2 linked regions of the Homo sapiens genome follow. The protein of the gene in region 1 interacts with the protein of each later gene in a biochemical or structural test. Each region holds a gene or a part of one and is shown in the gene's direction. Other genes may lie near its edges.

What was found. The genes of interacting proteins can lie anywhere in the genome.
Region 2: the proteins of ATP2B4 (region 1) and CASK form a complex in vitro, tested with the Homo sapiens proteins (2 studies listed by BioGRID and IntAct, with this or other methods).

What each region holds. Positions count from the first base shown.
Region 1 is NC_000001.11:203,723,563-203,728,978, forward strand, and holds part of ATP2B4 (plasma membrane calcium-transporting ATPase 4), read left to right. Parts: intron 1-318; coding exon 319-426; intron 427-3,832; coding exon 3,833-4,009; intron 4,010-5,416. UniProt on the Homo sapiens protein: Calcium/calmodulin-regulated and magnesium-dependent enzyme that catalyzes the hydrolysis of ATP coupled with the transport of calcium out of the cell. By regulating sperm cell calcium homeostasis, may play a role in sperm motility.
Region 2 is NC_000023.11:41,548,734-41,554,149, reverse strand, and holds part of CASK (peripheral plasma membrane protein CASK), read left to right. Parts: intron 1-234; coding exon 235-431; intron 432-5,416. UniProt on the Homo sapiens protein: Multidomain scaffolding Mg(2+)-independent protein kinase that catalyzes the phosphotransfer from ATP to proteins such as NRXN1, and plays a role in synaptic transmembrane protein anchoring and ion channel trafficking.

The sequences.
Region 1 (5,416 bases):
AACTCCATCACTGTACCTTCTCCTTGTCACTAACTGGCTTTAGTCACAAGAAGCCACCAGCTCCCCTAACTCCTCCAGATTGTCTGTTAATCATAGTCACAGTAACTATGTCTGTCTCCCCATCAGAGTGCTCTTAAAGGCTGTTTTTGTCTGTCTCCCCTTTGAGATTTCTTCTTTTCCCTTCCCCTGCAAGCAAATCGGGACTTGTACCCAAGGATCCTGAGGAGTGGGATGATGTGGCTTTGGGGGCCTTGGCTGGAGGGCCAGCTGCCTGTTAGTCATTTCCTTGATGGTGGGCTGCCCCTTTCTCTGTTCTAGATTTTCATCGTGGAATTTGGGGGTAAACCCTTCAGTTGTACAAGCCTCAGCCTGTCTCAGTGGCTGTGGTGTCTCTTCATTGGGATTGGAGAACTTCTGTGGGGCCAGGTGAGTACCGGCACACCCTCCTGGTGCATTCTCACAGCCTGCAGAACTCCCCTCCTCTACATGAGATGGAACAAGCAACGGTGGAGACCCCCCAGCTCCTCATCTTCATCTTCTCCTCTTCCCTCCCCACCCCCACTCAAGTTTTCAAGTTCTTGCCATCTCATAGGATCTCAAGGTGGAATGATCACTTCAGAGGTTTCAGAATTCTTCTCTAACTAAGCCTGGAGGTAGAAAAATCCCTTAGCTTGGCTGGGCGCAGTGGCTCACACCTGTAATCCCAGCACTTTGGGAGGCCGAGGCAGGCAGATCACGAGGTCAGGAAATCAAGACCGTCCTGGCTAACATGGTGAAACCCCGTCTCTACTAAAAATACAAAAAATTAGCTGGGCATGGTGGCAGGTGCCTGTAGTCCCAGCTACTCGGGAGGCTGAGGCAGGAGAATGGCGTGAACCTGGGAGGTGGAGCTTGCAGTGAGCCGAGATTGCGCCACTGCACTCCAGCCTGGGCGACAGAGCAAGACTCAGTGTCAAAAAGAAAAAAAAAAGAAAAATCCCTTAGCTTCTCTGAGACAGAAACCAAACTTTTCAATGGAATTTTGCTACAAAAAAAAAATATATAATAAGGGTCTTAGAAGTAGAAGAGTTTACAAGACACATGTCTTTATTCTCATGAGGCAGCAACCTGGCTATGGGCTGTCGAGCTGACATAATTCAGGGTTTCCAGCCTCTTCTCTTTCTTGCCATGGCTTTATCTGGGTGGAATTCTTAACTCTTACCTGAGATAAATTCAGATTTACAAGATCTCTAGAGTAGCAGTATGGCCTGTGGTTCAGAGCATGGACTCTGGGAATGACTGCCTGGGTTTGAATCCAGCTCTCTGTTTTTTTTTTTTTTTTTTTTTTTTTCTGAGACAGAGTCTTGCTCTGTCACCCAGGCTGGAGTGCAGTTGTGTGATCTCGGCTCACTGCAAACTCTGCCTCCTGGGTTCAAGCAATTTCTCCTGCCTCAGCCTCCCAAGTAGCTGGGATTACAGGCAACCACCACCGCACCTGGCTAATTTTTGTATTTTTACTAGAGACGGAGTTTCACCTTGTTGGCTAGGCTGGTCTGGAACTCCTGACCTCGTGATCTGCCTGCCTTGGCCTCCCAAAGTGCTGGGATTACAGGTGTGAGCCACCGCACCTGGCCCAGCTCTTGTTGCCCAGGCTGGAGTGCAATGGTGCAATCTTGGCTCACTGCAACCTCCACCCTCCAGGTTCAAGCAATTCTCCTGCCTCAGCCTCCCAAGTAGCTGGGATTACAGGCACCCACCACCGCGCCCAGCTAATTTTTTGTATTTTTAGTAGAGACAGGGTTTCACCATGTTGGCTAGGCTGGTCTCAAACTCCTGATCTCAGGTGATCCACCCGCCATGGCCTCCGAAAGTGCTAGGATTACAGGCCTGAGCCACCGTGCCCAGCCTCAGCTCTCCTTTTTATAAGCTGAATCATCTTGGGCAAGTTACATAACCAATCTGTGTCTCAGTGTCTTCAGCTTAGGAAAACAAGGTCATTGTTAATTAGTGAATCAGTTACTATACAGTAATGAATAATGTCTTATTCCTTATAAATAATCAAATTTTAAACTATTACGATTATAATAGTATCATTAAGTCTAATAGTTTCACTTCTTCCTTAATACCACTTTACAAACCTCCCTCATCCTCAGCTCTGGCCTGGGCTATACCTCTCTTTACAGACCCCAGGTCTCTGCAGATAATCCCTTAGTGTCCAGCCACCCAGGTAATGGACACTTTGCCCTAACTGGCCTCAAAGAGCCATTTCTGGAGCTGCAGGCCTTCTCCCCTAAACCTGCTAGTTATTTATTTCATACCTAGATGCCTCCCTGAATAATTTCTTTTTCTTTTCTTTTCTTTTCTTTTTTTTTTTTTTTTTTTTTTAAGAGATGGGGGTCTCAGGCCAGGCGCAGTGGCTCACACCTATAATCCCAACACTTTGGGAGGCTGAGTCGAGCAGATCACCTGAGGTCAGGAGTTCGAGACCAGCCTGGCCAACATGGTGAAACCCTGTCTCTACTAAAAATACAAAAAAAAAAAAAAAAAATTGGCCGGGCATGGTGACACATGCCTGTAATCCCAGCTACTTGGGAGGCTGAAGCAGAATTGCTTGAACCCGGGAGGCGGAGTGCAATGAGCTGAGATCACGGCACTGCACTCCAGCCTGGATGACAAGAGTGAGACTCTATGTCGAAAAACAAAAAATAAAGAGATTGGGGTCTCACTATGTTGCCAGGCTGATCTCAAAGTCCTGGGCTCAAGCAATCCTCCTGCCTCGGCCTCCCGAAGTGCTGGGATTACAGGCATGAACCGCTGCACCCAGCCCTCCCTAATTAATGTCTGACCCAATTCCCTCCACCCTGTTCTGTTTGGTGAAGATTTCTTTTTTTTTTTTTTTACCAATGGGTTCCTAAAGCAGTTTTATGCTTTGGTAAAGCTTGGTTGTTAAACCTGTTGTTTGAAACTCTGTTCTGGCTCTTGCCTCACATGTGGCCATGTGGCCTTGCTGCCAGACAGCAGCCTTCCTTCTGTATCACAACAGCTTTTTCCACATTCAGAGGCAGAGCTCTGGCATTCTTCCCATTTCAAAACCCTTGACTCCATATCAGATTGCCCATACAGTCCCTCTTCCCCACATGAGCCCTGGCTACTCCTTATCTTGTCCGGAAAGAACTGACTGACAGGTGCTGAGCTCACCGGGAAATTTATTTCAAATTTCAAACCCTATGTACTGCTCCTTGTCTTCTGATAATACTCATGTGACCCCTCTTCTATGGACTGTCCCATCCACTTCCTCACCTCAAGCCCAAGAAAACTTTTGGTATCCTTTCACAAGAGTTTGTAACACAGAAACTACTTTGCATGTGGCAACTAAGAAAGGGGTCATTCATTTCCAATACCCTTCTCAACCCCTTGCCTATACATAGGCAATATCACCATCTTCTCCCCAAACTCTTTTCCCCCAGGTCCTGGTCTCTGTTTCTTCCTACTGCGTACCATGCTGTATAGTTCTGTTAACCTTAAAAGACAGATTGCAAAATGGAACAGAAGAAATGAGACAGAAAGAGGAAAATGAAGTATATGACCAGGCAGATGGCTGGTCAATTACTAGAATAGAAGCTCTCTTTTGTGTGTGTCCATAAATACAGAAAACCTTCCTAAAAGCCTGACCGCTGGTGGGCACTTGGAGAATGCTTGCCTGGATGGATTGGTGCTTCTGCCCACTGCTCTTCCAGTGGGAAGGGTGGTAGGGCAAAGAGTAACCTGCCCAAGGGCCTGGCTCATGTAAGTTGACTGACAGCTCTTCTCACGCTGATTCTGACGTCTTCCTCTTCGCTGCGCTTGTTTTCAGTTCATCTCCGCAATACCTACCCGATCCCTGAAGTTCCTGAAGGAGGCTGGGCATGGCACCACCAAAGAGGAGATCACCAAGGATGCCGAGGGACTGGATGAGATTGACCATGCTGAGATGGAGCTGCGCCGAGGCCAGATCCTCTGGTTCCGGGGCCTGAACCGTATCCAGACTCAGGTACTCTGATAGTGGTCTGTCCTTCCCTTGGGAGAAGCAGCTTCCCATCTTGGAAGGTGTTGGGAGGGTAGCAGTTCTTGTCGGCCAGCATCTCTTCCCTTCCAAAGGCTCACTACTGATGGGCAGCCCTAGATCCTCAGCTTCAGGACAGACACGCAAAAGGATCTGTGTGGGGTCCTCTGAGAGGAGAGGAGTCAAATGACCTAGACCATGGGACACTATTAGCATAGTCCTTTAGCTCTGGGTTGACCCTAAAGCCCAGCCTGCCACCCTCTATCAAATGGGCAAGCTTCAGCATAAGGTCTCTTGCAAGCACTAGACCTGACCCCAGGGTGGGAAATGCTCAGTTTTTCCCTACCCTTCAGAAGGAAGGAGTTAGACAATATCAATATGCCAACATACCCAGCATTCACTTAATATAGCTTCCTCACACTGCCATTATAGGAATAGATGCTATCTGGAAGGGTCTTTGTAAAAGAAACTCACCTTGTTATATCTCCCCCATTCAAAGTGTAAGGCCATGGTGGGGAATCTGATGGTTTCATGTGTAAAAATGACAATAGTCTCTTGATGTCTGAGCATCTTTTGCAGGATTCAGACTTGCTTCCTGACAAGGAGGAAGCAATAATTTCTTCAAGCCTCTTCCCTTCTTGCAATTTCTGAAATGGGATAGAAGCCACCCCTGCTGCTCTTATGTCCCCTGTCTATAGCCCCACAATAACTTTTATTTTTTCCACTTTCCATGCATCAATTGTAACTACTTTCTCCTGGGTGAATGCGCTGATCTAAGCATTGATAATTCTGTCTTCCCCTGCTCTCACCCCCCATAGCTTTATTGTTTTAATCCTGAGATTTTCCATTTCAAAAACACTGTAAATTCCAAGATCTCAAGGGTGGTCTCCAGAAAACAGGCGTATTTCTCTCTGCTGATTGGCTAGAGATCTTCAAAATAAGTTTCACTGTCTAAAACTGGCCTTGCAAATGTTTTAGAAAGTTCCCCAGTCGGCCAGGCATGGTGGCTCACGCCTGTAATCCCAGCACTTTGGGAGGCCAAGGTGGGTGGATCACCTGAGGTCGGGAGTTCAAGACCAGCCTGACCAACATGGAGAAACCGCGTCTCTACTAAAAATCCAAAATTAGCCGGGCGTAGTGGCACATGCCTGTAATCCCAGCTACTCGGGAGGCTGAGGCAGAAGAATTACTTGAACCCGGGAGGCAGAGGTTGTAGTGAGCTGAGATTGCGCCATTGCACTCCAGCCTGGCCAACGAGAGCTAAACTCTGTCTCACAAAAAAAAAAAGACTGGGCGCGGTGGTTCTCACCTGTAATCCAGCACTTTGGGAGGCCAAGGCAGGTGGATCCCCTGCCTTAGGTGAAACCCCGTCTCTACTAAAAATACAAGCCAGGC
Region 2 (5,416 bases), on another chromosome or scaffold:
AAGTGTTCCTTCCAAATAAAAACAGCAAAGTTTTGAAGCTATACTCATCAAAGATTACTAGTACATTGTTTCTAGCGGTAGAAGTTTTTTGTGTCGTATTTCCATGCATCGTTTTTGCTTTCACCATCTGATGTCCTGTTTGTATTGTAACTGTTGGTGTGTGGTTATGACATTAGAGCTAACTTCTCTTTCACATCACTATGGCATCCTTTCTTACGAACTCCTGTTTTATAGATCTATGTAAGAGCACAATTTGAATATGATCCAGCCAAGGATGACCTCATCCCCTGTAAAGAAGCTGGCATTCGATTCAGAGTTGGTGACATCATCCAGATTATTAGTAAGGATGATCATAATTGGTGGCAGGGTAAACTGGAAAACTCCAAAAATGGAACTGCAGGTCTCATTCCTTCTCCTGAACTTCAGGAATGGTATGTTTTTATGCGTGTTTTGCTTTGCTTGGTTATAAAAACAAAGCCCTGACCATCCATTTTCCAATTTTATATTATTTTAGAGTGTAAAACCTGTTTGATATATTCCTTCCTTTACGAGCCAAACAAAATTTAAATTAGTCATCCAAGAATTCTATATCTTCAGTATCTAGTGAGATCCTAGTTGCAGAGTCAGGGCTTCATTTTACACAAAAAGAAAGGAAGGTCTGGAAAGAGATTGGATGAGCAGCCCTGAGCCAAGTCATGGTCTCACAGCAGAGCCCTCCACTCCTATATGCTGTTATAATTGTTTTAGAATGGCATTAAAAAAATGTACGTTCTCCTTGCCCTTCTACATGCTTTCATGCCCATCCCATTCCCACCACCAGCAAAAAATGTAGGTGCAGTGCTTCAGTGTCACTCAGAGTATTTGAAGATAAAATGTATTTCACTGTTAGAAGGAGGTAGTCAGAAGCTTTGTTCTTTACCTTGCCAGTCCTTTAAAAATACCTTTTCTGCTAGAAAGTTTAAGCCCTAAAAGCAGGCTAAAGTTAGGGGTTTTAGGCACTGTTTTTAACTGAGAGAAAAGGAGTCACAGATCACTGTATATTTTGATAAAATCTATTTCTGCTATTATTGTTACCGTTTCCTTAGTTGAACTGTCTTTTGGAAAATATTGATGGTTTTACCTTTGTTGGTACTTGGGCAATATACCAGATTATTTCTAGCACAAAAGAGATAATGTCTGAGTTTTGTTTCATGTGGCAAAAAATAACAGCCATTAAGCATCCTGCCAGTTCCTCCTAAAATACTTGAACCCAGCTAAAAGAGACCAAAGACATTGAGTCCATAGAAATTTCTACCTGCTTTTATCTATTTTTCTCACTAGTTAAGAGATTTCTCAGTTAATCTCTTTTGCTTGATCGCCTCTTTCAGCTATCCCATGTTTCCCCAAAAAATAGTATTAAATTTAGAATGTTGGAGCTGATGAGGACTTCAGATGCCATCATTTTATACATAAGGAAACGTGGGCCCAAATGGAGAAGCAGCAGCCTTCCATCTGGCATTGTCTTTCAGTCTGATCTTCGAGAAACAGTTCAAGCATAAGCAGGAGGAAAGCAATCTTTAAGTCGTTGCCGTGATGATGCCATTATATTCTTACTGATATTTACATTTTACAGAATGTCTTCTTTAATGTTACCATATATTATGGGCATTTATTGAAAATAATTGTGTAGATTCCAGACCTCTTCTGCCTAGTCAGATCATCTATATAAATGTTTCACCAATTTCTAGAACTCTGAGTCCTCTGGAGGAATCCTGAGTGATGGCAGTGCAAAAAGCAGATTTGCTTCCTATTTCCTGTAATGGTGGATGAGATTATTTGGATAAATCCTCCTGATGAAAAAAAATGAAAAGTGCCGCAGAAAATATGTTTTTCAAATGACCTTGAAAGCACTGAATAGCTGAAAAGGTATCAGGGGCCAGGCATGGTGGCTCACACCTGTAATCCTAGCACTCTGGGACGCCGAGGTGGGCAGATCACTTGAGGTCAGGAGTTCGAAGCTAGCCTGACCAACATGGTAAAACCCTGTCTCTACTTGAAATAAAAAAAAAAAAAAAAATTAGCCAGGTGTGATGGCAGGCACCTATAATCCCAGCTACTTGGGAGGCTGAGGCAGGAGAATTGCTTGAGCCCGAGAAGTGGAAGTTGCAGTGAGCCGTGATCGCGCCACTGCACTCTAGCCTGGACGACAGAGTGAGACTCTGTGTCCGGGAAATAAAAAAAGGTACTGGGGAGCTCAGTGACCAATTTTTTTTTTTTTTTTTTTTTTTTTTGAGACGGAGTCTCGCCCTGTGGCCCAGGCTGCAGTGCAATGGCATGATCTCAGGTCACTGCAACCTCTACCTCCTGGGTTCAAACAATTCTCCTGCCTCAGCCTCCTGAGTAGCTGGGATTACAGGCACCCGCCACCACATATTTTTAGTAGAGACAGGGTTTCACCATGTTGGCCAGGCTGGTCGTGAACTCCTGACCTCGTGATCCACCCACTTTGGCCTCCCAAAGTGCTGGGATTACAGGTGTGAGCCACCACACCAGGCCTCAGTGACCAATTTTTATGTGAAAGCCTTTAATAAGAATGATAAGTGGAATATCAGAGTTACCAAGTGGCCCATTTTGCAAACAGGGCATTTGTCATTACTGAACACTTCTGTGCCAGAGAACCAAGGTTAAGATCTAAGGCCAGTACAAGTTGGGGAATCTGTTAGAAGACCCTCCTCATTGTTAGGAGTGCAAGAGGCAGTCCCCCCAGGCTAAAAGGAAACAGATAAGCATACCCTTATTTCCCTTCAACACCGGAGGACTATAGAGAAAGCTGCCTTGTCACTGAGCAAAGCAAAAGATGAGGAAATTGGGAACAAACTTCCAAATTGTGGCCACCAGTCCACCTTGAATGGATTTGCACCCAGGTACACACAGCCTGGGGCAGCCAGGGGAGCTGAAGCCATGTACTTGATTTGAAGTTTCCCCTTTCTTTACTAATAGTTTCAGATGTATGGTATAAACAGAAAGTCTCTGAAGGCAAACACTTTTATCCTAACCCCCACTAACTTCATCCTATCCGCCCGACATAAACTTTTTCCAGGGCAGTAGCCAGCAAGTCAAAATTATCAGGCACACAAGGAAACAAGTAAGACCCAACAGAAATGACAGATAGTAGAAACAAACCCAAACCTACTGCATATATTGGAATTAAGAGACAAAGATTTTAAAAATAAGCTTACGAAGTTGGTTCGTTTGTTTTTGAGACAAGGTATTGTGCTCTCGCCCAGGCTGGAGTGCAATGGCATGATCATGGCTCACTGCAGCCTCGACCTCCTGGACCCAAGCAATCCACCCACCTCAGCCTTCCCAGTAGCTGGGACAACAGGCGTGCACCACCACACCCAGCTAATTTTTTTCTTTTTCTTTTTTTTTTTTTTGTAGAGATGAGGTCTCACTATGTTGCCCAGGCTGATCTCCAACTCCTAGGCTCAAGTGATCCTTCCACCTTAGCCTCCCAAAGTGCTGGGATTACAAGTGTGAGCTACCACGCCTAGCCCAGGTTTTTAAAAATCAATAATAAGCTTGTAAAATATCTTCAGAGAGCAGAAAAAAAATGTTAATGACATAGCAGATTTTAAAAAGAACCAGAGGAACATCCAGGGGGAAACATGCAGTAACAAAATTAGAATCTCAGTGGTCACACCTATTAGAATGGCTAACATTTTTTTGAAGTTTCATCAGTGGGTAAATAGATCAATAAATTGTGATATAGCCATACAATGGAATGCCACTCAGCAATAAAAAGGATCAAACTATTGATATATGCAGCAGTATGGATGAAACACAAGATCATTATGCTGAGTGAAAGAAGCCAGGCAAAAAAGAGAACACGCTATATGATTCCATTTACATAAACTTCTGGAAAATGCAAGATGGGGGTGGAGGGAGGGAGGAATTACAGAGGGGCATGAGGAAATTCTGGAGGTAATGAATATGTTTTTCTTTTTTTGGAGACGGAGTCTCGCCCTGTCACCCAGGCTGGAGTGCAGTGGCGCAATCTCAGCTCACTGCAACCTCTGCCTCCCCGGTTCAAGTGATCCTCCTGCCTCAGCCTCCCGAGTAGCTGGGATTACAGGCGCCTGCCACCACGCCTGGCTAATTTTTTGTGTTTTTAGTAGAGACAGGGTTTCACCAGGTTGGCCAGGCTGGTCTCAAGCTCCTGACCTCAAGTGATCTGCCTGCCTCAGCCTCCCAAAGTGCTAGGATTACAGGTGTGAGCCACCGCAGCACCCAGCCATTTTTATTTTTTATTTTTTATTTTTATTCTTCTAAAGTCAAGGTCCCTCTCTGTCTCCCAGGCTGGAGTGCCGTGGTGCAATCTTGGCTCCTTGCAGCCTGGAACTCCTGGATTCAAGCAATCCCCCTATCTCAGCCTCCCAAGTAGCTGGGATTACAGGCGCCCGCCACCACGCCCAACTAATTTTTAAATTTTCGATAGAGATGAGATCTCACTATGTTGGCCAGGCTGGTCTCGAACTCCTGACCTCAGGTGATCTGCCCGCCTCAACCTCCTAAAGTGTTGGGATTACCTGTGTGAGCTACCACACCTGGCTAAGAATATGTTTTTCTTGATTGTAGTGATAGTTTCATGGGATGTTTACAGATATCAAAACTGATAAATTTGTATACTTTAAATATGTTCAATATATTGCCAAAAAACTGAACTGTTAAAGTTGCAAAATATATAGAGGGAGAAAAGGATTCTAACTGAGATGATAAGAAAGAGGCCCACTGGGCAGTGTGTACCCCAAGACCTGAATAGGACTTTGGGGGTATAGGAAGCTATTCCTGGCAGAAGAGAAAGATCAATTTTCCTTTGCTTGGAAACTGAATTGGCCTCTGGGATGTCAGTGGGCATCCAATACTAACAAGAAAGATTTGAAACAATTGTATCAGCCAGACCCCCAAAACTTTGATCAAATATATTGCTACCAAGTCACATTCTTCACATTTTCTAGATGAGAAATCAGTTTTTTCGGACCCAAATGCCTTACTCTAGGCACATCAATTTAGCCCTTCAATATATTTTAGCTCCCGGACTCTGTCATCCCTCCCCTTGCCTTGCCTACAAGATCCTGATCTAAGCCATCAATAAATTGGTAGGCATGTGTTTGAAATTTCCTTCCAGGTTGACCTTAACCCTAACACGGTTTCTGTGCACTTACTGAGCTAAAAGAGCTAATGTTTATTTCTGCAGTGTCTGGTAAAAATCAATTTCATTCCTCTGTCATCACACCACATGAGACTATGCCACAATTTTTTCCTGGGAACCTGTATTTTTGTTTTAAGCTTAAGAACATTTATTATAAGATACTCTCTACATTGTAACATAAGCTTCACAAGGTCACACGATTTTGTCTCTTAACCTGTCAAAAAA